Linked DNA regions of Homo sapiens: region 2 is linked to region 1. The links come from fine-mapping of genetic effects on gene expression. A gene starts in region 1. The other region holds a variant in brackets. All regions are shown on one strand. Distances are from middle to middle. Region 1 holds the start of LINC02928 (long intergenic non-protein coding RNA 2928). Region 2 overlaps CLOCK (clock circadian regulator).

Evidence for each region. PIP is the estimated chance that this variant, and not a neighbour inherited with it, causes the effect.
Region 2: its variant is fine-mapped to the expression of LINC02928 in whole blood (TOPMed, PIP above 0.99).

The regions. Positions count from the first base shown.
Region 1 is chr4:55,376,642-55,379,562 of GRCh38, forward strand. It overlaps LINC02928 (long intergenic non-protein coding RNA 2928), which reads left to right and starts at 1,153. Exons shown (of 3, transcript XR_941060.4): 1 at 1,153-2,062. SRD5A3-AS1 (SRD5A3 antisense RNA 1) reads right to left here. Exons shown (of 4, transcript NR_037969.1): 2 at 966-1,129.
Region 2 is chr4:55,476,499-55,479,419 of GRCh38, forward strand. It overlaps CLOCK (clock circadian regulator), which reads right to left. Exons shown (of 23, transcript NM_004898.4): 6 at 2,317-2,465. Among named protein-coding and RNA genes, the nearest start is that of CLOCK, 69 kb to the right of the region's middle. The variant A/G (reference allele first, on the strand shown) is at 1,682.

The DNA.
Region 1 (2,921 bases):
ACATCAGTCCTTTCCCTCCCACCGCTAAATACCCTATAGTCACTTTTTTTATTTTTATTTTATTTTTTTTAGCTCTCAGAACTTTACTAAACTGCTCTTGAAAAGGTCTCCAACGACCATGCTGCTAAACCCGACAGTTGTTTCTCAGTGTTCATCCCAGCATGGTAGCAGTTGGTTACCTCATTTGAGATGCATTCTTTAATTGGTTCTGAGACACTACACTGTGGATTTTCCTCCTACCTCCCTGGCTGTTCCTTCCCAGGTTCCTCTGCTGATCTCTTCTGTTTCCTGATGTCTGAATGTTGAATTGCCCCAGTTCTCAGTCCTGGGTCCCTTTCTTTATCAATACTTGGTGATCTCATCCAGTCTCATAACTTTAAATACTATTTATATGCTGACAACTTCTAAATTTATATATTCAGCCCAGACATCACCCTGACCTCTAGACTCATATATCTAGTTGCCTACTTAACAGCTCTACTTGACTTGAAAAGCACTAGCTGTTCTCAAGTTTGACATGATTAAAGGTAAATTTCTGATTTTCCTCTTCCCCACACCTGATCCACCTACATTCTTCCTGTTTTTTCACTTACTCAAACCAAAAGCCATGGAGTCTTCCTTGACTCTTCTTTTTCTTTCACAATCCAGAAATCAGTGGGTCTACAGTTAGAGCATGTCCAGAATCTACCTCTGTTATCATCTTTCTACAAACTGCCATCGTGATTTTCATTCATTTTTTGCCTAGATTATTGCAACTGACTAAGTGAGCTCCCTGCTTTCCCCCTTATACCTTACAGACAATTCTCAACACAAGCTAGAGTGATCTTTCACAAACATAAATGAGATCATGCCACTACTGTCCCAAACCCTGCAACACAGCTGCCAATTTCTCTTGGAGTAAGGCTGAAGTTCTTCTACTAACCCACTAGGCCCAGTATGTTGTGGCTCCCAGTCACACACATTACCTCGTCTGCTATTCTCCTCAGTGGACTGTAGATGATCATGTATATGATGCTCCTTATACACATCAGTCATGCCCTGCTTCAGTGTCTCTGCACTGGCTTTTCCTCTGCCTGGAATGCACTTCTCCAAGATATCTGCATGGCCTTCTCACTCAGCTTCTTCAAGTCTTTGTTCAAACATCACTGTATTAGTTATTTACTGCTGTGTAACAAAGTACTCCAAGTCTTAGGAGCTAAAAACAAACATCTATTATCTCATTGTTTCTGGGGTCAGAATTCCAGATACAACTTAGCTGGGTGCCTCTGCCTCAAGGATTCTCTGCAGTCAAGATGTCCCCAGGGCTGTTGTCTCATCTTTAAGCTCTACTGAGGGAGGACCCACCTTCAAGCGCACTCACATGGTTGTTAGCAGGATTCAGTTCCCCATGGGCTCTTGAACTAAAGGCCCTAGTTCCAGGCCAGGCACAGTGGCTCACACCTGTAATTTCAGCACTTTCGGAGACCAAGGCAGGTGGATTGCCTGAGCTCAGGAGTTCAAGACCAGCCTGGGCAACATGGCAAAACCCCATCTCTACAAAAAATACAAAAATTAGTCGGGTGTGGTTGCTTGCACCTGTAGTCCCAACTACTTGGGAGGCTGAGGTGGGAGGATCTCTTGAGCCCAGGAGGTAGAGGTTGCAGTGAGCCAAGATTGTGCCACTGCACTCCCGCCTGCGTAACAGAGGGAGACCCTGTCTCAAAAAAAAAAAAAAAAAAAAAAGAAAGAAAGAAAAAGAAGAAAAAAAAAAGGCCCCTCATTGGCTGGGGCCTCCTTCAGTTCCTTGCCTCTATGGAAGGACTTCTCCATAAAGCATCTCACAACGTGGTACCCAGCTTCCATCAGAGCAAGCAAGCAAGGGCATCCACAAAGGAAGACAATCTCATTATAACTTAATCTTGGAAATTTTGTCTTGTCACTTTTGCCATATTCTCTTTGTTAGAAAGGAGTTACTAGGTCCAGCCTTATACTCAAAGAAAGAGGATACTCAAGGAAGTCCAGGAAATTCAGACTATTGGGGACCATCAAAGAGGCTGCATACCACAGCTGCCCTCTCAATAAGGTGATCCCCTTATTTAAAATTGCAACCCAACCCCCTTGTACCTCTCCTTCTCTCTTCCTCGTTCTCTCTCTATCATACACACATTTCCATTTTCCTTTCCCTTTGCTCTGGTGAGCAATAATAAATACTTATTGTTTTGAGTCACCTGGTTTTGAGGTGGTTTGTTCTGTAGAAATAAACCTCTACAATGTACTTTTTCACTTATGTGACTGACTGCCACTGCTACTGCTTGAGACCGTCATTACAAGACTGAAGGAAGGGACGGACGCAGAAATGTAAACTTAAGACAAAAGAAACTATTTTAAAGGAAGGGGAATCAGGAAAGAAGAAGAGAACTCCCCGCTTCTAGTGAGCAAAGGCAGCCCCCGAGTTTCCACAGCCTTTCTTATTTATTGGGTAGAAAGAGCAGGGAGGAGGAGGTAACGATTGGTCAGCTGCTTAATCGATCACAGGTTCATATTACTACTAACAGGCTTCAGAAGTACCTAATCACAAGAAACACTGCGCTTGGGGCGTGACTGCCCTCAGCATTCCTTCTGGTGGCAGACGCAGTTTGTCAGTTTGCCAACATTCTGCGTTTATGAGAACAGTTTGCTGTTTACTCATATAGCCTCCAGTGGTATACTGAGTTGATCACTACCCTCAATCTTTCGGCCTCCAACACACTTAGGTACATTATTTTTTGCCTGTGTTTCCTCAATGTAATGTGAGCTACATGAGGGCAAAAATTTTTGGGTTTGTTTTTATTGCTTTGTTTGCAGATATATCCCCAGCACTAGTAAAGTGCCTGATATATAGTAGACACTCAACATTTATTAAATGTATGACTCTGTTACTGTTATCTGCATAAGTAAATAGG
Region 2 (2,921 bases), 100 kb after region 1:
ATGCCTTAGGCCTGCCTACTGCTGGGCAAAAAGCTTCTTCCCAACATTAAGTGCTCTATCTTAATTAATCAAAGAGACTAAATTAATATTTTATGCAAAAACTTTACTACAGTAATATTCCCACAGTGATTTTTCTTAGTGTCCTCCTTGTACAACAGTAGAGAGATGGTGAAAAATTTGGAGATCCCTGCTGTGGGACATATGTTTGTCACAATTATTACCATTTTATTTCACTACATACTTCTAATAGATTTAGTTATGAAAAAGCTATTCATAAATGATGAAACCTAGTAACAAATGTTTTTCTATTTTTTAATGTAGACATATTAAAACAAGCAGGCAGAATAAAAATCTATGTCATAGACTATATTCTACAAAATATACTCTAATTTGTAGTAAGAAGTATAAACTAAATTCTGATTTTATCATCAGATAGAGAAATACAGCATACTGTCCCTCATCAAAAGTTAGCATATTAGAAATGCCTGTAGTGGAATATGAAGAGTAACTAAGAAGTAGAGCTACTAAATGTGCGGAATACAGTTGTGTTTTTCAAATTCACATCAATTATATACATTTGGGAAAAGGATTTAAATCCACAAACAAATCCAATCAAGTTTCATTAAACATAGGCCTATTTTAGGATGATACATATATAAAATCCTTTTACCTTAACAGAAATACTATTTTTGTGAGAATTATGTATCTGATTTTGAAAAAAAAAATTACCTAATGCCACAATTCATCCTCTATTGACGGGGAAATATATGCATTTCATTTCATTCAACAACCATTTATTGAACTCCTAGTATCTTTGGACTGGTTTCAATGAGTGTGCCATTTAACAATAGGCACTGAGGTTAGTGAGATACTATCTGTAGAGGTAAAATGTAATAATAGTGGTGGCAATAAATATTGACACATTTACGAAAGAATCAACAGAATTTGGCAACTGTGATATGGTGCTAAGGAAGCTGAAAAAAAATCCTAAAATTTTTTCAGGTTTAAGTCTTAGGTGACTAAAAGGATGGTGGTATAAAAATGAAAAAAGGCAAGTTAAGAGAAAGAGGTAACTTGACAAAATGAAAATAAATTCAATTTTAGATGCACTGAGTTTGAGGACATGCAAAAGAAAGATCTAGAAGTTATCTGGAAATACATGGCTAAAATGTTTGCATCTAAAAATAGAAATCTGGTAGGTTAATAGAGACACAATAGCTGAAGCTATGGAATGAGATAAGCAAGAGAAAGAGTGTACAGAAAGCAAGAGAACAAGGATAAGACTTAGGAATGTCACATTTAGAGGGTAGAAAGAGAGGAAAGAAGTTAGTTTCAGTTAGAAAAGGGGAGGAGAAAGTACAATATAAGGGAAGCCAAGGGAGGAGGGATAAAAATTTCCAGTGCTGTACAGATGCAGAAGAAGATGCGGTATAAGAAAAAGCTATTGCTTTATTGAGGGATAGGAAGGTAATGTCATTAGTGAAATTAACAAAAACACTTTCAACGAGTGGTGGAGCATAAACCAGTCCTGTAAGGCATTACCAACTGAGCTAGGCAGAAGTAAAACAGAGGCACTAATTACTAACTGTCCTGAGTTTTACAGTTTCATTTGCATTTGAAAAAGGAAATTTCCTTTTACAGGTTTTTTTTAAATCTATTATTATCTGTTACCAAAATACTT[A/G]ATATTCTTTAAATTTTCTTTCCATGACTCATTTGTCAAGATGATTTTCTTCTATTAACAAATACTTTATTTTATAGTGTTGATTTACTAGATATACATTGAAACCTTTTAAAATGACACATAAGAACTTTATACTATCCAGCTTTTTCCTTTCTTTCAAATACACCCATAATTTTCCAACACAAACATGCTTCAGTGACAATGAAGTCTCCCTGCCTCTCTGCTTTTGCACATATTCCCTTTGTGTGACATGCTGTCTTCCTTAATCTAAAAGACTCAGTTGAAAAATCAACTATTTTAAAAGTCTCCCTGACATACTCTTTCCTGTGTTTTTGCTGCAAACAGTTTACAAGCACTACTCACATTTGTAATTATGTGCTTACATGTTTGTCTGCCCTGGCTTGACTTAACTTCAAATCCAGGACTGTTACCCTGCATCATGAGGATTTAGCATGTAGTAGGCACGGAATAAATGTTTGTTGAATGAAAGAATGAACATATTAGGAAACCTTTTAAAATGCAATTGATTTCTCTCTCTTAAAAAAGCCAAGGAAGCATCCAATCTTAAGCATCTCTGCCAAGATTCTAACTAATGCTTTGAGAGTCTGTTCCATTTTACAGAGTTAAAAATTTACCTTTATGTTTTCGTAAAAAATCAATGCTTTTCTGCAGAACAGTAGATTTGTCCATCTTTCTAGCATTACCAGGAAGCATGGATCCCAGTTCTTTAATGAGAACATTAAATTGATCTCTACGTTTCTTTTCAGATTTGTTTCTAGATACTCTGATGAAATGAAAAATATGCATTTTTTAAACAATCCATTTAATTACACAAGTAGTTTAATACAATGTTAATTTAGACATGACACAGCATGTACTTCTATCAACATAGATGGTAACAAATATCTTCCAGGTTACCAATATACAGTTAATTTGGGCAATAATTTTTCAGCTCAGTTTATTACTAAAGAAAATTTTACAAATCATACATTTGACAAACATGTTTTTATGAAAATGCCAATAAGAAAAACTGCATTCAAATCACAAGTTTTATTCAATCTAATACTTCCAGTGATTGTTAACTTACATGGTTATTATAAATATATGTACTAAATGAATAAAGACGCTATTCTATGTGAAGCAGTAACCAGTAAACAAACAGCTATTGAGAAAAACTTGATTATTTATAAAACAATCATTTTATGATACCTGTAATTATCTGCTTTGAAGTCAGATTTTC